Linked DNA regions of Homo sapiens. The main gene of each other region encodes a partner of the protein of the gene in region 3 in a complex. Each region holds a gene or a part of one and is shown on either strand. Other genes may lie near its edges. The genes, in order: RICTOR, MAPKAP1 and RPTOR.

Region 1 (8,079 bases), on a different chromosome or scaffold from region 3:
CACTCCCCCTCTCTGCCCCAAGACTTTGCATTTTGTGCTAAATCAACCAAGTAGCAAAATTGAAAGGTATGCTTTTTTTGGCATAAATTATATTTTTGAAATTAAATATTCTATAAAGAAAGTAAAACAAAATGTGCAATTTATGCATGCTGTGGTGCAGCTATCCGATACTTACATTACAAAAATACTCCAAACAGGAAAAAAGTCCACATTCTGTGAGTCATATAAACCTACTAGGAATGAAAAATACCCTGGAACTTGGAACTAAAAGAAGAAAAGAATGCTCCTAGAAAGATTCTCACAGATTTCAGTGTTCTTTGATAAGCACTGCTATTAATTTCACTGGTATGCTTTTAAATGAGATTCTCACTGTAATGACACTCTTGAGATTAAGATAGTAACAGTGTATTTTGTTAATGCAGAGACAATGGAGACTTCCTAACTTACATTTTGGAAAATCTGAAATGTTGGTTCATTCCAAATAGCTCCTCTAACAAAAGTCTCTCAATTTTACCTTTTCTTTTTTCCCCATGTTTTAATGGATTGTGAATCTGAGACAAAAGTGGAAGCATAAGACTAAAGGAGAAAAAACCTTACTTCCAAAGAACATTTCCCAAAGTAGTTTACAAAGTTCATCTCACACAAAATTAGCACCTCACTCTTACCATGCAAAAATAACTGCAGTTATAATTTGAATGACAGACAATTTGGTTTTTATTGCTTAATGATCTGTGCTTTAATGTGGGGATAAAAGGCATCCTCTGAATGGAATAACATTTTATATAAATAGCAGTAGGAAAATGTAAATAAGCATTGATATCCCACTGCTGAACACTTGGCCGTTGTGATATGCCCTGAAAAACTCAGCTTGAATTATCTCAAGCTCTAGATAAAAGAGCTGAAACCCATTAAAGTTGTCATTTCAAAAGGACTTGTACACATTATGTTAATAATGTATATACTTCCAAAGAGCCTCTTTTAATGTCACTGTCATATAGAATGTCCATATTCTACTAATCGTTATTAGAAAAAATTTAATTAGGGAGAACAGACTGTTTCCCCCTTCCAATCTACCTAAGAATAAACAGGAAATAAAAGTATAGGAAATTTTAGAGCATATTTAATTATGAATACTAAATTTCTAATTTCCTTATTTATCAGTATTTACTTAGTATGTGAGGCTGAAATCTGTTCTTGAAAAAAAGTTCAATTAGAAATAACAATTCACTTTACGATTAGAAATTCATAGTTTACAACCAGCACAACTGCCCAGATTCCTCCCAATTATTCAATAATTACCAATAGTACAAATTTATATGGACTAAGATTAATCCTAAAATCTTTAAAAACTACAGTATTGACATTATTTTGGTATTCTATAGTCTGTAATATCTATTATTTATAGATGATTTTCTCAATTATTTCTATTACTGCTGATATCATTCCTAACCTCTTCTGCTATAATTTAATATTTTTAAACACTTAAGTTAATCACTTGGCACTGCATGTATTTTTCACCATAAAGTCTACTTTTTACAAACAAGTACTCAAAGAAAATGTATTAGACCTGTCAGTGAAATCATGGAGAAACCAAATAGCACTATAAATTTAAGCGTAGACTTTTTTTTTTTTTTAGTATACTGATAACCACAAAGCTCTGAGTATCTCCCCAAAGTAAGTGATATAGGCAGATATGATAAGGTATACATACATATTTTTCAAAGTAACAGTAAAAAAAAAAAACAAAAAAAAAAACACAAAACATTCAGGCCAATACTAACTAAGCCTTATTTCAGGATAGATGACCAAGGTGAGGGTACAGGGATAGTGATGGTGGGGGAGGGGGTGTGTGTGTGTGTAAGACAAAAAAAAAATTACTGTTAACTTTTGAGGGATTAAACCACAGATTTTTATACTCTATATTAACTGAGGTAGTGTTTAAAATGAATGTCTAAAATATGTTAATCCCATTATGAATAAGATTACATTACTTCCTTTGGAGGTTTTAACCACTATTTGGTCTAGTAACTCTGACATTTGGTTCTCTGGAAAGGCAGTTTAGTTATCCAAGACCAAAGACCACGATGACAGGCAACGTTCTTAGAAGTACTGTTGACATTTAAATAAACACTTGGGTTCAGTGATAAAGTATAAAAAAATTATTTATCTTCAACTGGATTTTATGAGAGAAAATCTGAAGAACCACTTTTCAACATAAGCAGCAGCTTACAGCCCTTATCTGCTTTGTTATAATGTAAGTTGCTACACAGTGCACATAAGAACAATTCACTGAAGTGCAGTCAAAGAGGTGTTATGAAGTGAGATGAAATGCTTCATCCCAACTGGAACTTTCAGTTCCAGTAAATAAATTTTTTAAAAAAGTATCTCTGTGAGTTATGTTTTCTAGTTCACAGGGTTCTTTACAGAGATCTCAAAGAACAAGCCCATTACAAAAAGGATCTGCATCATGGGAAAATATTAATGTTGCTATGACTGTGTCAAAACTGATGTGTAATTGTAATAAAAATGTTATACACAAATGAATTAAAAAAGAATCCTAATCAGTCCAGCTGGATTTTCTATTTCTATTTATATATAGATCTCAAAAAAGATAATCCTTTCATTTACAAGCATTCAAATGATGGCCATGCTATTTTTATATACAAATTTGCATATATGTTTAATTCCTGTAAAAAGTTCCAAATACCTTTAGACATATACAAATTAAACAAACAAAAACCTTGCCCTCATCAACTTAACTTCACAAATGGATAAAGGCAATTAATATACTCATAAACCCACCTACCACTGCATTTAGTTTGTGCAAAACAAAAACACTGATATAAAAATTAAGTTACTGCTGCTTTAAAATTTGGTACTTAAGGCTTTTCACTACAATTTTTCTCAATAACAAGCTTTATTAATGTTTTTTTTAAGGAAATATGGCTCTTCTTTCCCCATGGAATGTGTAAATTGCAAGCAAACTTATCTTTTCCTCAGGAGATCCAAAGTATTATTTAATGCTTTCCTATCCTTTAGGTCTAAACTAACAGTGCTTGTTCAAGTTCCTGTTTAAAGCGATGAGATGGAAAGTTGATGAAAGTGGAAGTCCATTGCAAATATATGCATTCTATAAATGGGAAATATTTTTAATTAAAATAAAAAATGATTTTTAAATTTTATTCAAGAACTGTAGTGAAAAACCTTAATTGGTTCATATATCCTGTAATAACACATTGCAACAAAATGAAGAGTTGGAAAACAAGAATCTTTATGCAAGTCTAGTAACATAAAAATAACTTATAAGTCCCGGGTTGTTGAGGCTCTTCTTCTGCTTTGAGGTTATAAACCTCTGAAGTAGTGTTACAAACATTAAGAAAAACGTGAAAGGGCCAAAGTTCCCTCTCTAATACCAGCAGTTATAGCACACCCCATTGTGGTAATAGGATGCAGCCTTAGAGACACTGATTCCTGCTTTCCACAAGTTAGTTAACAAACAAGGCATCTGTATTATTTACCCTAAAAATCATTCAGAAATAACTTGTGAAGGGTGCTTCTGCATATCCCATTATTGTTCCACTGTCATTATGCTTTTAAAATGAAAGAAAATAGAAAACCTATGTAGGTATTCAGTGCTTGGCTCTTGCATACAATGGTAACTGAAACTCTTAAAACTGTGGTAATGAATCATGAACCCCTCAAAAGGCTCAACAAAGGAGAGAAGGAAGTTGTTTTGGTTAGGAAAGTCAGCAGTTCCAACTGTTCATGTACCAGTAACTGCGGAACAGTGTACAGAAGATACTCCTGTCTTTGCTGCCTAGTCAGTCGTATTTTCTGAGGCTTTTAGGAAATCCACAAATATGAATATATATAGTATGTATCTATATCCATCATAAATATGAGGTCAGGATTCAGCAGATGTATCAACTATAGGTTGCTTTGGTGGTGTTGCCAACACAGCCTCTGCTTCTTCATGCATCTAGGGAAAAAATGGTGTATCATCAATTACTTTTATAAAAACAGATGATATAACATATTTATATAAATATCTAATTTTTTTTTTTTTTTGAGATAGGGTCTTGCTCAGTCTTCCCAGGATGCAGCACAATGTTGCCATCTTTGTTCATTGCAACCTCTGAGTCCTGGGTTCATATGATCCTCCCACCTCAGCCTCCCAAGTAGCTGGGAATACAGGCAGATGACACCAACCTCGGCTAATTAAAAAAAAAAAAAAACTGTGTTGACACGGTCTCACTATGTTGCCCAGGCTGGTCTTGAATTCCTGGGCTCAAGCAATTCTCCCGCGCTGACCCCACAAAGTGCTGGGATTGTAGGCATGAGTCACCACACCCAGCTATAATCTGTATTTTAATTCAATTCAAACACAGAATTATTCTTGGAAGATAAATTTGAGAAGTACTAATCATACTTACTTGTAGAAACTGTACATCTTGAAATAATTCTTGTATGAACCTCCGACACGGAAGTCTGAATGTGCAGTGTGACAGCAAATGGGAAACCTCAGAGTAAAGGCATATGTCATCAAATGTTTGAGGATACTTCTCCTTAATTCTAAAATAAAAGATTATGGTGTGATGAAAACTGTAATCATGATGTATCTATTTTTCCTCCAAGGTATCACTTACTTTAAAAATAGATTTCCCTACAGATATGGATTAGATGGCATACTTGGGGTGATGACTTGAGAATATAAAATATTAAATATTCCTGTCACACACTTAGACATTCTGAGTTTGGGTTTTTTTTTAAAAAAAATGATTATCAAAACCTGAATACTTCTTGTAAAATTGAAGCATTCTTTTTTATTGGCATGAGAAATTGCAAAATATATTTATCAGCCTAGGATGATTAAAATATGTTCCAAATTAAGTTTTAAAATAGAAATACATCTTTAAAGTTAAGTTATTAACATCCCTGACTGGGCTATTTCTTTGGATACTTCAAATAGCAGCTTTTAGCTAGGAAAGCACCTCAGAATCAGCTGTGAGTTGGGTGAGTGACCAGTTAAGGGCCCGCTCCCAGAGCTCCCAGCCCAGAGGTCTGCTGTGGGACCCTGATACCTATGTGGGACCCCAATACCTATATCACCCTTAAAAAAAAGCCCTACAGCTGGCTGGGCACGGTGGCTCATGCCTGTAATCCCAGCACTTTGGGAGGCTGAGACAGGAGATCACCTGAGGTCAGGAGTTTGAGACCAACCTGGCTAACCTGGCGAAACTCTGTTTCTACTAAAAATACAAAAATTAGCTAGGTGTGGTGGTACACACCTGTAATCCCAGCTACTTGGGAGGCTGAGGCAGGAGGATTGCTTGAACCCGGGAGGCAGAGGTTGCAGTGAGCCGAGATTGCACCACTGCACTCCAGCCTGGGTGACAGAGCAAGACTCCGTCTCAAAAAAGAAATACAAAATACAAAATAAAAAAGCCCTGCAGGAGACCCTGAGGTGCATTTCTTTTAAGAACCACTGCTTTAAATAATAAGAAAAAAATTAAACCAAGAAAATATGACTTGTTACATGTAAGCCCACTTTCCTCAAACTTTTTGGTCTCAGGACTTACTTTCTTAAAAATTACTGAAGACCCAAAAAAGCTTATTTTTGTGTGGGTTACAGCCACCATTAACTACTATATTAGAAATTAAAATTGAGAGAATTTCCTAACATGCATTAATTTATTTTAAAAATAAATCCATTACATGTTAACATGTATTTTAATAAAAATAACTGTATTTTCCAAAAGTAAAAAAGTGAGAAGAGTGGCATTATTTTACATTTTTTGCAGATCTCTTCAAAAGTCTGGCTTAATAGAAGATAGCTGGATTCTCATACTTGCTTCTACATTCAATCTGTTGCCATATGTTGTTTTGGCTGAAGTATTAAAGAAAATCTAGCCTCACACAGGTATGCAATGCAGTTTAGAACTACTGATGTAAGTTAACTAGCCTAACTTTTGAAGTATTTCAAGTATCTTTTCTCGACTTAAAAAACAGAATAAACAAATAATACTCATGCACATAGTTTACTCACGTTAAAAGCCCAGTCTCATGACATTTAGTTGAAACTGAACTACTCAAATTAATGACTAATCTTAGAACTTCTTTGCGAAGGAGTATACGGCACATTGGTGTATCATCTGGAATTGTTTTAACACCTGAAAAGATTTCAGGGAGAAGTTAAATATTATCTATGTCACAATAAAATGATTAAAACTCATGAAATTTATTTTTAAACTTCACCTAAAGACCTAGAGATCAATTACACATGATCTACCAATCATTTTGGGAGCAAAACTCTAATAAAAGCAGATAGCTAAGAGGCTCTATGTCAGTGGGTGATATAGGTGCAATAATTAACAGTGTTAAATTGCTTCACTAAAATGGACGTATTACTGTTTTGAGACAACTTTAATTTACAGTATTTACGAAAAACAAAACAAAACCAACTAATCAGAACAGTTTTACTAATAATGATTGGATTTGAATCTGAAGACTCACCTAGTAACAATTCTGTGCTTTTGGTGCTGCTAGCTGAGCCTTCTTGAGACACCCCATCACTGCATCCAGAAATCCCCGAAAACTTAGAGGGAACCACTTCTAAAGGATTATGGATAGTCTGCTCACACCAATCAGAATATGGAATATCTTGAAAGTCTGAAGAAAAAAATAATTATTTCAATTAAAGCACCATAACGGCTTAATTCCTGTGCTTACATTGCATGCTAAAAAGAAATAATATAAAATAACATCTTCTCTAATTGTATGCAATATACCAAACACTTCCAAAACTTTTTTCCTCATAGAAAATGAAAATAACTACAGCATGCAAAGGGCCTGGACAGGGCTGTTCACAGTGGAAAAGACCTAATCCAGGGATCTGTCAGACTCAGGCCCCACTGTGACCTGGAACCGTGAGAGGATCAGCATCTCAGCATAACATAATTTGGCATATCAGTGTGCTGCAGCTCACCAGCTGGGAAACTCTGAATTAGAATACCAAAAAGAAATTTGGAAAAGTAAACCAGAGAACTTTAGTCATCACTAGGTTTTTCTGAAGGTGGGACGTGATCACTTACCTGAATGACTACATATTGCACTCAGTTGGTTGCTGGGCTGGAAACCCAGAATTTCAATACAGACACAATAAAGGCAGTTATCATCTGTATGTTCCTGTAGTCCAGTGTCTTCTGTACTTTCTAAAAACAGAGAGGCATCTGAATGGATTGAATTCATTATTTCCGTAAGACTCATCTGCTGTCGTAGCAAGTGAAAAGAATTTTTTACAAGACCTCCAGTTCCAGATGGAAGACCTGTGCATAAGTAAATATAAAACATAATCCAATAAAGATAATACTTTTCAAGGTACCTTAAATTATGTGAAATTTTAAAGAAAGCTTAAGCACATTTTATGACTCAAAATCTAACTGGAAAGAAAAAAAGAATAATTTGCTTTAAGTTATAAAAATAAGGAAAGCCAGCAGATGTTTATTATTTTAATATATAGTGTTTTAAATACAAAATGGAAAATTGAGATTATATAATACATCATTTCAATTATCGTCAATATTTGCCTAAAGATATGTAATAATTCTAAGTATAAAGAGGCATTTGTTTAAAAAGTCATTAAGAATATAAAGCTATAAAACCTGTGGCTTATATTTACATATTAAAATATAACAGTTCAAAACAAAGACCGTGTATTTTATAAGTACATTTCTTTCTCCTTACTCTAAACAAACAGCTATTTCCTGGATCTATGAGGATTAGTGTTATACATTGTTCATGTGCTACTTTTAAAAAACAGAAACAACTAATTTGGTTTCTATTTCCTTGAAAGGTTGAGTACTTCACTGAAAACACTGTTAAGTCCCTCACACATACACAAAAATGTGGTTTAATTTTAAGCTGACTTTAACAATTGTTTTGGTATAATTTTAAAGTTGATCCAAAAGTGAGTCTTCCTAAATTTTTAGTGTTATCCTACTAGAAAGAACTAAGAGTTTTCTTTTTAATATAAAGAGGCATCTCACAAGTACAATGCACAATGCATTACCTCCTGCATCA
Region 2 (8,079 bases), on a different chromosome or scaffold from region 3:
CTATTAGTATAATAAACCTTAATATTATTAGACTTATAATTATTGTGTAACAATGGAGCCAATCCACAAATATTTATTAGGCATCTATTACATGCCGATATGATATTGGGAGGTGCTGGGAGGATACAGAAGACAGACTGCAGATATTTCTTTTAAAGGAGAAGAAAAAGAGAAAGTCTAGGAAACATGATATAACCACTATAAAATATTTTAATAGCATTTTATTTCTGAAATTGTTTTTCTCCCCAAGTCTTTTCTTCTTGCTGAGACTGAAGCTTTGAAAGTATATAATATGGCCAGCCTTTATACACATACTATATGAAAATATACAGCAAATGCTAATAATACCAGCAACATAATGGTTTTTACACTAAGGGAAAAGAATTTGCATATATGCAAAAAAGACTGTTACTAGGCCCACTAATGGGGCAAGGAAAAGTCTAGGTTGGAACTGCCAAGAGAAATCTGTAACCTGGAAACTCATCCAAAATATCACAGGGGCTGGGCGCAGTGGCTCACGCCTATAATCCCAGCACTTTGGGAAGCCAAGGCAGGTGGATCACTTGAGGCCAGGAGTTCGAGAACAGCCTGGCATGGTGAAACTCCATCTCTACTAAAAATACAAAACTTAGCCAGGCATGGTGGTGTGCACCTGTAGTCCCAACTACTTGGGAGGCTGAGGCAGGAGAATTGCTTGAACCAGGGAGGCGGAGGCTGCAGTGAGCCGAGATGGCACCACTGCACTCCAGCCTGGGTGACACAGCAAGACTCCGTCTCAAAAAAAAAAAAAAAAATCGGCTGGGCACAGTGGCTCATGCCTGTAATCCCAGCACCTCAGGAGGCCACGGTGGGTGGATTACTGGAGGTCAGGAGTTCAAGACCAGCCTGGCCAACATGGTGAAATCCCATCTCTACTAAAAATACAAAATTAGCCAGGTGTGGTGGCATGCGCCTGTAATCCCAGCTACTGAGGACGTTGAGGCAGGAGAATCGCTTGAACCGGGGAGGCAGAGGCTGCAGTGAGCCAAGACCGTGCCATTGCACTCCGGCCTGGGCAAAAAGAGTGAAACACTATCTCAAAAAAAATAATAATAATAAAAATCAAATCATAGGGTACTCCTTGGCCTATATTTTTTTAAAAAATCAGAAAAAAATACTGACATGACAGCTTGTAAAAAATGTCCCCTGCACACATCAATCCCTGTGACCCAGAGTGAAGGGTGGCCAAAAAGCCAAGAACTAAAGAGCATATAGCTTCAGAGGGTCAAGGCACACAAGAGAAAGAGCTCAAAGCTCAAAACACTAGAGGTATCTAAGTCCAGAGGATTTAAAAGGATGAATTAAAAATAAAAGTTCTTATATAATAAACTAAATATATAAATCTCAAATTAAGAATTAAAATCATTTCCATTTACCTGATTGCTTAGAATTTCTTTCTTTCCACTGAATATTTTTGCATTTGATCTGGTTTTGTCTCTCTTTTCGGAGTCGTTCTAATCTTTGAGCTTGAAAAGAAATATTATAACTGTAAGTTTGTCAATGAAAGTTTACCATAAACAAAGACATAATTAACTACCTTTACATGAATAAAGATGTTTTATATTGCATATGTAGAGAAAAAGTCATAAAATTTTAAAGGTGGCACCCCTGAAAAGCAAATACCAACAAAAACATGAAAATATTCTTGATTTATAATTGAAATTAGAGGATATAAAACACTAATAGAGATCATAAAGATAGTATTAACATGGAAGAGAATAATAAAATGTGAAAACTTCTGTGATTAATATGACATTTCATTATATAAATCATTAATAACGGTCTTAAAGGAATTTTAATGCACAAATGAACTGAAGTGAATATTACATTACAGGAATAAAATTACTGTTATGAATTACTCTACCCATTTCAAAAATTAAAGATAAATGAACTCAGACTAGACTATTAAAGTTTTAAATATAAAATCCTTTATCTAAAAATCATGAAAATTATAAAATGTCAAAGCTATATAAATTAGCATAGCTTTTCTTCAGTGGGCTGAAACAGTTTATAGGTAGTAAAATAAATGATTTGTATCTTTGTAACATTAGTCAAATCTTAAAAAGAACAATTTTTCTTTTACAAAATTTTAAGATATGCTGCATGGATTAAAAAGTAAATTCTTTGGTCACTAAGACAACCTACAATCTCAATTAATTATTAGCATCTAAGTGCTACCTAAAGAAATTCCAACAAGAGTCACCTAAAATTATGCATTTGTGATTATATTGCCACTGGCTGATCAACCTTCAAAAATCAGTGAACTGATCCTTTAGAGAAATACCACCCAGCATGCACTTAACAACTGCCGCATACAGAGACCACAATAAAAAAGAAAGTCACAATTGATGCCATCTCTTGAAATCAGTTTTCTCTTGCTAATCTTCAGCTTCCTATCCCAGCATTTTGCTAATAGAAAATAAATACATCTCTTTTTCCGCCTCTTTCAAGATAGGAAATTATACACTTCTGCCTTAGCATTGTGGTAGGGAAACACTGAAAATAATCTTACCAGAAATTTAAACTATGCTGGGAAGAGCATTCTGACAATGTCACTATATCTAACCAACACTGAAGAAAACTACATTCAATTGCAATTAATAAATGTGAAGGGTACAGCCAAAGTAATATAATCATAAAGCTCTCAATTTAGCAGCATTCTCCCACTGAAATACATTCAACCTGTCATATAAGATATCATCTCAATAACCTGCAAGGAAGTCAGTTTCAACTAGAGAACTGAAAATCAATGGTTCTAAATTATATTCAAACCTTCACTCAAATCCTATTTTGACAAAAGTTCCTTTAGATACTGGGAAATGCTATTAATTATTTTCATCATGAGAGCAAATTATTCTTATGTCACAGATACTGAATTCTGAACCAAAACTTGAATGTGCCTTTCACAGTAAATTGTATCCAGCTCTACCTCCAATATTCCTTTATGTGTGTTTTACATTTGGACCATGAAAATAAATATGTAAGTATTTTCAGTGTTCTACTATATCTCCTTGCCATTACCTTTCCTGGGAGTTAGCAGGTTACTGCTAATTTGAAGATTATATTTTCTGATTATCTAAAAAAAATTACCTCCTAGAATACCTGTCATATTAGAACTACAATATGTATTCTAAATAATTTGTCTAAGTAAAAAAAAAAGTCCTTGGTTCATCACATTCCCCTTGAAACAAGGCCACCAAAAAAATATAAGTGGGAAAATGGGCAATAAGCTTTTAAAGCTAATGACTAAATACGTGTATACCAAAGTTGAGTGTTTTCAAGCCAGAAAAATCAAAAGGTGATCAATTTAAGAAAATAAAGGCGAAGTATCAAAAACAGGGGCCCCTTTTCTAATCTCACACCCTATGTATAGAATCCTACTAAAACCAGCCCTAACAAATACTCAGGTGTCTCCTCCCATTTCCCCACTCCCCCACAATTCCTCCAGGGGCAAGAAGTGCCTGCTCTCTTTGGGTGGTCACCTCTCTGTATTAAATGCTCTTTATTATGTCAACCTGAAATCTGTCTCCGGGTAGTCTACCTACTGGGACTAATGTTGCTGTGTGAAGACACTCAAAGCCAGTCCACTTGCCTTTCTACACAATGACTTGTTAGAAATGTCCAACATGTCTCTCCTAACCAACTTTTTCACTATCCCCCTTCTGTCTACTTCTAATAATATTCTAGAGGCCCTCTCCATTCGCAGTCGCAGAGATGGAGATGTTGCTCAGACTCACTCTTAGTCTGACATATGCATGTTCCTATTAATACCCGGAAACATCCCCCATTAAGCCTATTCCAATATTATGCATTATTCCATAAGACTGTTTACTGATTTAAAGCTCAGAAGACATGACTAGAACACAATGTTTACCTGTGTTTGAGCGTCTTCTAATACCAAAGTCCCAACTTGAGGTAATATCGACTGACTGGGCATATACATAGCCCTGAGTCTCACCATTGCTTCCCTGAATTTCTGACCCACTGTCTCCAGGCATTGAAGGAGGATGAATCTTCTCTAGGTCAACATCATGATCAATGAGAACCATCTCACACATTCCCGTGTCATCACTGGTCACATGTGACTGTCGAATATGAGCTAGAATGATAGTTGGATTGTCCAAGAAGGCCATCCTTTCTGTGGGCCAATTTCCTTAAAAGGCTATTTTCTCCTCTTCATATTGTTTCACGAGCTCACCTACCTAGAAACATGATGTACACAGCAAATATTTAAGAATAAGGCAGAAAATGACTGAATCATTTTTCAGACACATTCAGTGTAGTAAAATGCCACCTTGAAAATCAACATTTATCCCTGTTCTGTGGAGCTTAAAAGGATTTAGTCTAAGCTGAAAGGAAATCCTTATAAGCACTAGGGGCTGCAGCTCTAGTCAATGAGATCTCTATAGAATCAGAAAGGAAGGCTTGCACTCTTGCAAAACAAATCACAGCAACTCCTTACAAGTCAGGCCACTCGAAGCACATAACTACTGTTAAAACAATATATTTTCCTTTCTTTCTCCCTTCACTATCATGCAATCTTCTCATTACTTTATAAGGTCATGGGGGAACAAGTTGTATTTTCCTCAAATGATGTGCTAAAGTACAAAACTCTATTTCATCAGTTTACATTTCCCCTCCTGTCATATGATTGTGAAGTGTTTAAAAGGGCACAGACAATGCTTTCAGAGTTACTAGGGGTTTTATAAAAATGATGTACCACCAAATTAATGTTGCTCAATGAATATATTTTCCTGTCAAGATAGTATTGTGTTTTTGTTGTTGTTGTTGTTGTGTTTTTTCTGAGACAGGGTATCGCGCTTGTTGCCCAGGCTGGAGTGCAGTGGCGTGATCTTGGCTCACTGCAACCTCCACCTCCCAGGTTCAAGATTCTCCGGCCTCAGCCTCCCGCGTAGCTGGGATTACAGGGATGCGCCACCATGCCCAGCTAATTTTGTATTTTTAGTAGAAATGGGGTTTCTCCATGTTGGTCAGGCTGGTCTCAAACTCCCGACCTCAGTTGATCCGCCCGCCTTGGCCTCCCAAAGTGCTGTGATTACAGGCGTGAGCCACCATGCCTGGCCTGTGTTTTTAAAATAAAATTTATAATCAAAATTACCTACTATACAATCAACTTCTTATTTTAGAAACTTAATTATAAAAACTGCTTCCTCAGTCCTGTTAAAACTGTAATGAGGCCGGGCACAGTGATTCACACCTGTACTCTCAACCCTTTGGGGGGCCGAGGCAGGAGGACTGCTTGAGTCCAGGAGTTCAAGACCAACATGGGCAACACAATCAAAACTCTATCTCTACAAAAATATATATATATAATAATTATTATTTTTTAATTAGCTGAGCATGGTGGGACATGCCTGTAGTCATAGCTACTCATGAGGCTGAAGTGGGGGGATCACTTGAGCCCCAGCATTCAAGGCTGCAGTGAGCTATGATTGCACCATTGCACTCCAGCCTGGGTGACATAGTGAGACCCTGTCTTCTAAAAACAAAACAAAACAAAACATACAAAAAACACTGTAATAATATTTGTTCTAGTAACAAGATAGCACCCTCTCAGTTAAGTGAAAATACTCAACAAAGAAAATATTGCAGGACAACGGTTAGGTACTAGGCCCTAGAGACAGAAAGGGTTCAAACCCTGGCCCTATTACTCGTTAGCTATAAGATCTCAGTCAAAATACTTTACCTTTTTGAGCCTCCCTTTTTTTTTTCCTTCATTTATAAAATGGAAGCTTCAGGAGATAATGCAGGTAAAATGCTCAAAAAAATACATGGCATGTAATTAAATAAATGTTAGCTATTAATAATAATGATAAAAAATCAATAATTTCAATGATCAATTCTTGCTTAAAGTAGTCCTAAAATATGTCAATATCCCATCTGTCTTAGTAAGTTCGTGGCACATAAAATAAGTCTGTGCTTCCTTTGTGATAGAGGACACTGCAAGTCATCTGAGTGACTTCCCTGCCCCTGCAAAATTGTTGAGAAGTACAAGGAATATGAAAGCTGGATTGACTATGTTTCCAGGAACAGTCCTAGAAGATACTTACTTTCAGAAGGACTTATAACACCAGATTTTCTTGTAATCTGTTTCTTCTAGAAATGGAACATAGAGAGGAAATCTAGCTAATAAATCCTTACAGTTAACTAAGGTTTTAAAAATTGTTGTCTGGAAACACATCATTCTGCTGATGTGTCTTAAAGTGGGTCTTAAAATAAAGATACTGAGATTAAAAAGAAATTTAACTGAGGAGCATCTCTAATCAAGCAAATTACATTAATCTTCACTTTTTTCCTCTTAATATATTCCTTGAGTACTTATTTTACTCTGAGGCTAATGGGAAATGCAAAGGTGAGTAAGGTATCCCTGAATCAAAAAGTTAATACCCTAATACAGACCGAGTACATCTCCTAATACCATGGGATTCCTTTAAGCATCAAATTTCTGAGATATCTGGTCCCTGAAGTATTAGTGTCAATCTACCATTTTAAGGATATTGATCAGAAAAAAATATGAAATTAACAATGAGCATTTAAATTTCACTTGTAAAAATACAAACTTCTCTATAACCATAAAAAATGTATACACCACACATTTATTTATAAATGAGAGTATTTGTGGAAGCATAGTATCACAGATCAGAGCTGCAAACATCCTTCTACAGCAATCACAATAAGCCATCTTCCTGGCATGAAAGGAAGGCAGCTAGTCACCAGTAGAGAGGCAGGTGCTTTCAAATTCATACTGAATAGTTCTCCCTTGCAAAAACAAGGGCTTTAATGAGAAGTCACACATTTAATACACTTGATCTTAGCCAAAAGGCCGAGAAGTGATCAGATATTTAATAGGTGTTCTAGCACCAAAAAGTCAAATGGCAAAAGGCAAAGTGACAAAAGTATACTGAAGTGCCCTCAATAAAATCTATTCTAGGGAAATAGATCACTTCTGAAGATAAGAGGAATGGGCAAACACTTCTGAAGGCACATACCAACTTCCCAGCTTTATCCTCCCAGAACAAATGCCTCAACAGCAGCAGATATCTTCTCTATTAGGACACTATGACTTCATACATTAAGGAATCTGTATGATTCATTCAAAAAATATTTATTCCCTACCAGCTCTGATATGGAACTCCCACAGGACTGCCCCAGAAAACATATTATTGTGTATGTCACTTTTTACCTCCAATTACATGTACTTAAAGACTTAGACTATAAGTTCCACAAGGACAGGGTTCATAACACCATATTCCTTCTGGCAACAAAGGCTGTTATACATGGCAGGAGTTCAATAAATGTTGCTGTCTAACTTCCAAGGACTATTCAATTTTGTTGTAGAGATAAGTCATATATGAATGTGCCAGGTGTAAGTGTGTGATTATAAATAAAGGATTGTCTTTTTTTCGTAATACAAGAGCATCTCTTCAACGTGCCCTTCAAAATTGTCCCCTTGGAACACTATTCAACTTATTCTAACAAGACTACTTTTCAAAACCCAAAAGAATATTTTAAAAAATCTCCCAAAGAGCAGCAAATTATCATTTGAAGCTATGTTTGATTTCCAAGACAAGGACATACATATCACGGATAAAAACAAATTGTACTCTCTGATCAGTTGTGCACAGATCAAAAAGATTTTTAAAAATCTAACTCTGGCAAGGGTTCAGAGAAATGGGCACTCTCATGCACAATATGAAGGAATGAAAACTGGGACTTTTTAGACGGTAATTTGGTAATATTTACCAAAATATAAAACATGAATACTATCTGGGCAATCCTACTTCTAGGATTTGTTCTAAGGAGATAATTGTGTAAAATATTTATCTCAGAGTAATTTGTAATACTGGAAATCTAAAAGGAACCTACAATAGTACACATATGCCATGACACATACAAACAACACAATACTAAGTAGCGATTAACAATACATGGTAGAGGGTGAACAAAATGTGGTATATAACGATGGAATATTGTTCAGCCTTCAAACACAGGAAATTCTGACACATTACAACATTGATG
Region 3 (8,079 bases):
AAATAAGTTAGTCATTGGGGGAGGTTGTATAAATTCTATCTTATGGACATCTTTAGTAGTAACTATATAGTTAAAAGCTTTTGTGGTTGCTATACATATATGAAAAGACTTTTTAAAAAATTCTTTGTGGAGGGCAGTTTTTTTGTTGTTGTTATTTTGAAATGTGGTTCTCTCTGCTGTCCTAAACCTATGTTCCAACAGTTTGAAACTGATTAATGGGTATACGTTTGACCTTTTAATTAAAACATTAATTTGTGAATGATCAACATTCCCTAATAAGCTTTTCACAGGTTGTTAAGAGAAACAAAAGTTCTGTGACTCTTAGTGACTACTGAGATTGCTGCTTAGAAAGGAGCTGGGGAGAAAGTTTGCTGTATCTGTTTTTCGGTGGAGAAAATCAGCAGCTAACATCTTCAGTTGAGTGTGTGGGAGTTTGGAATCTTGTCATCTCTTCCCTCTTCCAAAGGTCAGGTCCTTTGGAATCTTGTCATCTCTTCCCTCAAGGACCGTATCACACATGCTATAGGACAGAAGTTGCAAACTCAAATGATATTGAGTGGGGATGGTAGCATAAGAGAATGAAACAGGCCACATTTAAGAAGAATAATGGCATAGGTTCAAAGATAAAGACAAATGGCAGCTGACATTTGGCACAGTGTGTGTGACAGTTTCTGGAGGGTGGGAACAGGGGCTCCCTGATGCCATAACTGAAGGGGCAACTGGGCTATGGCCAGGCCTCTCTCTTTGTCTTTGAGAAGTCAGCAAACTTTTTTTTTCTTTTATTGTAAATATTCATACTAATTCAGATTTATTACCAAACACACTGTAGTCCAACACTGCAGGCTGAACAACCCCATTTGTGGAGTGTTTTTCTGTTTCTTTTTTTTTTTTTTTTTTTTTGAGACAGGGTCTTGCTCTGTCATCCAGGCTGGAGTACAGTGGTGAGATCACACGGCTCACTGCAGCCTCGACCTCCTGGGCCTGAGTGATCCTCTCACCTCAGCCTCCCCAGTAGCTGAGACTATAAGTGTGCGCCAGTGTGTCTGGGGTTGGGGAGTCTCACTGTGTTGCCCAGGCTGGTCTTGAACTCCTGGGATCAAGCAATCCTCCTGCCTTGTCCTCCAAAAATGCTAGGATTACAGGCATCAGCCAACACGCTCAGCCTGGGGTGGTTTTTTTTTTTTTTTTTTTTTTTTTTTGAGATGGAGTTTCATTCTTGTTGCCCAGGCTGGAGTGCAGTGGTGTGGTCTTGACTCACTGCAACCTCCGCCTCCCAGGATCAAGCTATTCTCCTGCCTCAGCCTCCCAAGTAGCTGGGATTACAGGCGCCTGGCTAGTTTTTTTTGTATTTTTAGTGGAGATGGGGTTTCACCATGTTGGCCAGGCTGGTCCTGAACTCCTGACCTCGGGTCGTTCACCTGCCTCAGCCTCCCAAAGTGCTGGGATTACAGGTGTGAGCCACAGCACCTGGCCCTGGGGTGTTTTTTGACCAGTGGGTTACCTACGTAAGAATCTCTGTTACCCAGGCCTCCAGGCCACACAGTCCCACTGTGCTGGACGTAGCCTCCAGTCTGGTGGAGCAGCATGTTTGTAAAGTGAAATGTGTGGGCGTGGTTGTTCTGTGCTAGGAGCTACATCAACTACTTCCTGGTGGCCACTGACTGTCCTAAATGCAAGCTGAGATTTTGCTTCTTCTTGTGGTTAATGTGCAATTCCATACGCTTTTATTTTGTACATATATTCATTAGTTCTTACTGGCTCCTATTTAGTAGCCTTGCTACAGATTCCTCAAATTGACATCTTTACCAAAGTTGACTGACTGATGACTCCCAAGAAGTTTTTTTTGCCACCCAACACTTGGCATCCTTCCAGAGCTACAGCCCTTGCCCGCTCTCAGTTGGGATTCCTGCCATCTTTGTTTTGAATCAGTCTTGGTTTTCAAATGCCACTTTTACCACATTTTAATTTCTAAGTTACTGTTACTTTAAAATTATTATCAAGTTAGTTTGTTGTTTGGTTAATTCTACTATGTATAGTGAATGAGGCATATATGTATCCATAGTGTTTTTAGCTTGCAATTTTCAAATAACTAGACATATATGAATTGTAGTTCAAAATGAATCATTCACAGACCTTTGGCTAAAACAGATACGTATATATCTCCCCTATTTGTGTTTTTGGCTCACTGCAACCTCCGCCTCTTGGGTTCAAGCGATTCTCCTGCCGCAGCCTCCCGAGTAGCTGGGATTACAGGTGCCCACCACCATGCCTGGCCAATTTTTTTCATATTTTTATTAGAGACGGGGTTTCACTATGTTGGCCAGGCTGGTCTCAAACTCCTGACCTCAGGTGATCCACCTGCCTCGGCCTCCCAAAGTGCTGGGATTACAGGTGTGAGCCACCGTGCCTGGTCTAACTGTGATACTTTATAGTTATCACAGAGTTCATTTTCCTACTGGAAAGTGGACAGTGGGGATAACTGGTCTCAGATGACTCTTTTGCCTGGAATATGTGGGATGGAATGACGGGTGCTTGAGAGCTATTGCTCTGAAAGTGTTGACAGACATGCTATGTCTACACACATGTAGACTGACAGACACTCTGTCTACATGCATGTAGCACCCCTGGCAGACACATTCTGTGTACACATGTGTGGTGTCATTGTCAGACACTATTTCCATGCATGTGTAGGACCACTGACAGGCATCCTATGTCTACATGTGTAGGGGATGAAACGGTTAGATGAAGAAGGCTATTTTGTAAACCATTCTCTAGACTCAGTTGCATTGCTCTGTAGCCATACTTTGCCCAGGTCATGGAGGAAGCAGAGTAGATCTGTTCAACTAATACATGGACTGCCAAAGGTTTATGCGGTCTTTTCAGCAAGGGTAATAGCAATCCTTCATAATCTACACTACCCCCTCTGCTTTCCTCACCTTGCGTCCTCTCCACATTCCAACTGTGCCCTGTTCCACTCCCCTGAGACTGGTCTCCATATGGCCCCAGTTTGTTGCTAAATCTAAAGTTCTCTTCTCTGTCCTTCTCTGTTCTTATTTCACCTCTCAGCAGCATTCCACAATGTGGACCATGGCCTCTTCATAAAGCTCTTTCCTCACTTGCTTCTGTGTCTCCACGAAACTCGGATTTTCCTCTTAGGTCACTAGTTGTTCCTTCTCAGACTCCTTTGCTACCTGACACCTAAATGCAGGGGCACCCCAGGAATTGATCTTGGACCCCATTCTCTGTTCTGGGTGTGCCCCTCCCTAGCAGATCTCATCGGGGCCCATGATTTTAAATAGTGTCTACATGCCAGTGATGCTTAAACCCCCAATCTTTAGTTCTGATCTGGCCTGAAATTTCTGTCTCAGATGCCTACTGCCTGCTTTTTCTTAGTTTTCTCCATCACCGCTTGCCACAACCACCATCCACTCAGTTGTTCAAGCTGTAAGTTTAGAGTTTATCCTTAATTCTTTCCTCTCCCTCTCTTTATCGCCCCATCCAATTCATTAGAACCCATCAGCGTTACTTCCAAAGCATGTCTTACATTGGCCTGCTTCATTTTGTCTCCACTGATGCAGCCCCAGTCCAGGCAGCCACCGTCTCTTGTCTGGACACTGCATTTGTGTCCTGACTGGTCTCCCTATGTCCATTCTTGCCCTACAACCAGTTTTTCACATAGCAGTCAGAGGGATCTTTTATTTATTTTGAAATGGAGTCTCTCCTTGTTTCTCAGGCTGGAGTGCAATGGCGTGATCTCGGCTCACTGCAACCTCCACCTCCCGAGTTCAAGAGATTCTCGTGCCTCAGTCTCCCGAGTAGCTGGGACTACCAGTGCATGACACCATGCCCGGCTGATTTTTTGTATTTTTAGTAGAGATGCGGTTTCACCATGTTGGCCAGGCTGGTCTTGAACTCCTGAGCTCAAGTGATCCTCCCACCTCAGCCTCCCAGAGTGCTGGATTACAGGCGTGAGCCATCACACCTGGCCAGAGGGATTTTTTGAAAGTGTGAAGGGGTGGGTTGCCCCTCCACACCTGTGGGTGTTTCTTGTTAGGTGGGACGAGAGACTTGGAAAAGAAAAAGAAACAGAGACAAAGTATAGAGAGAGAAATAAGGGGACCCAGGGAACCAGCGTTCAGCATATGGAGGATCCCGCCAGCCTCAGAGTTCCCTTAGTATTTATTGATCATTCGTGGGTGTTTCTCCGAGAGGGGGATGTGTCAGGGTCACAAGACAATAGTGGGGAGAGGGTCAGCAGACAAACACGTGAACAAGGGTCTTTGCATCATAGACAAGGTAAAGGATTAAGTGCTGTGCTTTTAGATATGCATACACATAAATATCTCAATGCTTTACAAAGCAGTATTGCTGCCCGCATGTCCCACCTCCAGCCCTAAGGCAGTTTTTCCCTATCTCAGTAGATGGAACGTACAATCGGGTTTTATACCGAGACATTCCATTGCCCAGGGACGGGCAGGAGACAGATGCCTTCCTCTTGTCTCAACTGCAAGAGGCATGCCTTCCTCTTCTACTAATCCTCCTCAGCACAGACCCTTTACGGGTGTCGGGCTGGGGGACGGTCAGGTCTTTCCCTTCCCACGAGGCCATATTTCAGACTATCACATGGGGAGAAACCTTGGACAATACCTGGCTTTCCTAGGCAGAGGTCCCTGTGGCCTTCCGCAGTGTTTGTGTCCCTGGGTACTTGAGATTAGGGAGTGATGATGACTCTTAAGGAGCATGCTGCCTTCAAGCATCTGTTTAACAAAGCACATCTTGCACCGCCCTTAATCCATTTAACCCTGAGTTTGACACAGCACATGTTTCAGAGAGCACGGGGTTGGGGGTAAGGTCATAGATTAACAGAATCTCAAGGCAGAAGAATTTGTCTTAGTACAGAATAAAATGGAGTCTCCTATGTCTACTTCTTTCTATACAGACACAGTAACAATCTGATCTCTCTTGCTTTTCCCCACAAAAGTGTGAATCAGATTCTGTTACTTCCTTACTGGTGGTCTCCATTGGCTTCCTCTGTGCTTAAAGTAGAACTCAGACTCCTCTTGCTGGTTCACAAAGCCTTCATGATTTGGCCTCTGCCTGCCTTTTCTGCTTCTTGGATAGAAACTCCTGGAATGCTTTTCTCTCTGATCTTTGCACACCTGGCCCCTTCTCGTCGTTCATACTTAGCATCTAGGTCCCTTCCTCAGAGAGGCCCACCATCACCCCATCTGAAGCAGCCACCCTGTCACTCATAAACCCTCCTGATGGCTATTTATTTCTCTGATATTTTTCTCCCTACTTCCTCCTGGAGATGTGAGCTTTTCATCATAAAGCAAGGACCTAGTCTAGTCTATGCTAGTCCATAGGGCAGTGCTTGGCACATAGTAGGGATTCAACAAAACTATACTGATACAAAATGGATAGTTTACAAAAGGCTTCCACATACATTATCTTTAAGGCTCAACAGCACCATAAATTACCTAGGGATCATTCTCTCCGTGTTACTGATGAGGTAACTGACGTTTTAGTTGAATGGCTTACCTAAAGTTACATAAGTAACATGGCTAGCAGTGAGAGGAAGTGGAACCTGTGCAGAGGGAGAAACAAAGTTTAGTTCAAAACAAAACAAAACAAAACTGTATCATAATGTCTCCACTGAAACATTTATGTTAAGAGGTCAGGGGGTTGAAAATAGCAGACCAGCAGACCAACATTCAGCAGACAGAGAAGGATGCTCAGTCTGCTCACAGCATGTGCCCTGTGCACTGGGGCTTCTCCTAGACCCTTGCAGGGATCCACAAGGTCAAAACTGTTTTCATAATAATGGAACACCATTGGCCTTTTCCACTCTGTTGATACCTGCACTGACAGTGCAAAAGTGATGAATCAAGACAGCGGTGCCAAGCTGTACTACTAGTTCCTGATTTCTTTGCCATGCACATGGAGAGAATGTCCTTGCTAATAAAGCAGTGAAAATGATGACTTTTACTAAATCTTGACTGTTAAGCACACATCTTTTTCAGACTGTGTGTGCTGCTCCTTCTCCTGCAGGCAAAGCCCAGTGGCTGCCTGGAGGAGGAGCATCTGCTGCCTTCATGGACGCAGCACGTCCCAAAGGAATCACCGACAGGCCGCCTCTGGATGTTGAGGCCTGTGTCCACGGCAGACGTGTTTTTGAAAATGAACTTAGTGAGCTGTCACTTCAAGGAATACAGCTGACAGTATTTGCTGCCAGTCATGAAATTTGAACCTTCAAGTGAAAATTGGTTTTGGAAAACTTGTATCTGCCGCTGTGAGCCTGGCAGCTTCCCAAGACTTAAAGATGTTTCTGGTGAGATCCATAGTGATATTAATGAATGGAATTAATGTTGTAGAATGAAATGTGCCCACATTTGGAACAGCTGCATAATTCAGTGAACAAATATTTCCAGATGACCAATCCATGATATTATAAAATCATCCATAGGTAAAAGATCCGTTCAATGTTAGACCAGTGGATTTTAATGTAATAGGGTACAAAAAGTTCACCAGAGGATAGGTGTTTTTTTTTCTTTTTTTTTAAGACGGAATCTTGCTCTGTTGCCCAGGTTGGAGTGCAGTGGCGCGATCTCGGCTCACTGCAACCTCCGCCTCCCAGGTTCAAGCAATTCTCCTGCCTCAGCCTCCTGAGTAGTTGGGATTACATGTGCCTGCTACCACGCCTGGCTAATTTTCATATTTTTAGTAGAGATGGGGTTTTGCCATATTGGCCAGGCTGGTCTCGAACTCCTGACTTCAGGTGATCCACCTGCCTTGGCCTCCTAAAGTGCTGGGATTACAGGGGTCAGCCACCACACCCCGCTTGATGTTCTGTTGTGTGCGTGTGTGTATATTTTTTGTTGTTATTTGTTTGTTTCACAGTTCACTGCATCCTTGACCTGGGCTCAAGTGATCCTCCTGCCTCAGCCTCCTGAGTCGCTGGGACTACAGGTGTGAGTCACCATGCCTAGATTTTTTTTTTGGATTTTTTGTAGGGATGGGGTCTCACTATGTTGCCTATAGTGAGAGTTTAAATATTTTATTCAAATAGATTGCAACAGATCTTTAAGAAACTACCACTTACTCAATTTTGTTGTAATATCAAATAATAATATTCTCAATTATTTGGATATTCTGATACTCCTGCCATTATGTATCTTTGTGAGGCCAGATTTTTCTCACATACTTCAACCAAAACAGTGTATTTCAACCCATTGAATGTGGCACCAAAAATGAGAATCCAAGGTGGGGTGCGGTGGCTCACACCTGTAATCCCAGCACTTTGGGAGACTGAGGCGGGCAGATCATGAGGTCAGGAGATCAAGACCATCCTGGCTAACACGATGAAACCCCATCTCTACTAAAAAATACCAAAAATTAGCCGGGCGAGGTGACGGGCGCCTGTAGTCCCAGCTACTTGGGAGGCTGAGGCAGGAGAATGGCGTGAACCCGGGAGGCAGAGCTTGCAGTGAGCTGAGATTGCGCCACTGCACTCCAGCCTGGGTGACAGAGTGAGACTCTGTCTCAAAACAAAACAAAACAAAACAAAACAAACAACAACAACAACAAAAAAAATGAGAATCCAGTTGTCTTCTATGAAGCTGGATATTAAAGAGATTTGCAAAAATCTAAAAAAAGCCACCTGAGACAAGTGACAAGATAACTGACAATTTTTGAAAATATAGTTATTTGTAGAAATGTTATTTATTTGAATATATAATAAGTTTGATTTTTAAGTGAATTCATAAATATATCAATTATGTTTTTCTGTTTTAACCTTCAATACGGAAAATGTTGATAAATGAAACTCATAAAAAAGCTCTTTGAGGGTCTTCAGGAACCTTTAAGACCGTAAAGGGGCCCTGCTGCCAGATGTTTGAGAGTTATTAGTGTAGTTAGAAGAAAGTGGGCCTCATCCTTAGGAAGAAGGGCTTGAGGATATCAGGTGGCTGGTCAGAAATGTCAGGCAGGGCCTTGAAGTGACATTAGATAAGAAACATAAAGGCCCTAATCTGTTGCCCTCTTTCCATTCGCTCTGCCTAAAGAACTGTTGAGGTCTCT

The links.
Region 1: RPTOR (region 3) and RICTOR share a complex: the UniProt entries of both Homo sapiens proteins name them as parts of the mechanistic target of rapamycin complex.
Region 2: RPTOR (region 3) and MAPKAP1 share a complex: the UniProt entries of both Homo sapiens proteins name them as parts of the mechanistic target of rapamycin complex.

What each region holds. Positions count from the first base shown.
Region 1 is NC_000005.10:38,938,400-38,946,478, forward strand, and holds part of RICTOR (rapamycin-insensitive companion of mTOR), read right to left. Parts: coding exon 8,069-8,079; intron 7,326-8,068; coding exon 7,092-7,325; exon of another isoform or gene 6,670-7,091; coding exon 6,514-6,669; exon of another isoform or gene 6,171-6,513; coding exon 6,047-6,170; exon of another isoform or gene 5,835-6,046; coding exon of another isoform or gene 5,802-5,834; intron 4,573-5,801; coding exon 4,434-4,572; intron 3,980-4,433; coding exon 3,905-3,979; 3' UTR 1-3,904. UniProt on the Homo sapiens protein: Component of the mechanistic target of rapamycin complex 2 (mTORC2), which transduces signals from growth factors to pathways involved in proliferation, cytoskeletal organization, lipogenesis and anabolic output.
Region 2 is NC_000009.12:125,668,403-125,676,481, forward strand, and holds part of MAPKAP1 (target of rapamycin complex 2 subunit MAPKAP1), read right to left. Parts: intron 6,896-8,079; exon of another isoform or gene 6,752-6,895; intron 4,242-6,751; 5' UTR 4,173-4,241; coding exon 3,914-4,172; intron 1,506-3,913; coding exon 1,416-1,505; intron 1-1,415. UniProt on the Homo sapiens protein: Component of the mechanistic target of rapamycin complex 2 (mTORC2), which transduces signals from growth factors to pathways involved in proliferation, cytoskeletal organization, lipogenesis and anabolic output.
Region 3 is NC_000017.11:80,547,200-80,555,278, forward strand, and holds part of RPTOR (regulatory-associated protein of mTOR), read left to right. Parts: intron 1-8,079. UniProt on the Homo sapiens protein: Component of the mechanistic target of rapamycin complex 1 (mTORC1), an evolutionarily conserved central nutrient sensor that stimulates anabolic reactions and macromolecule biosynthesis to promote cellular biomass generation and growth.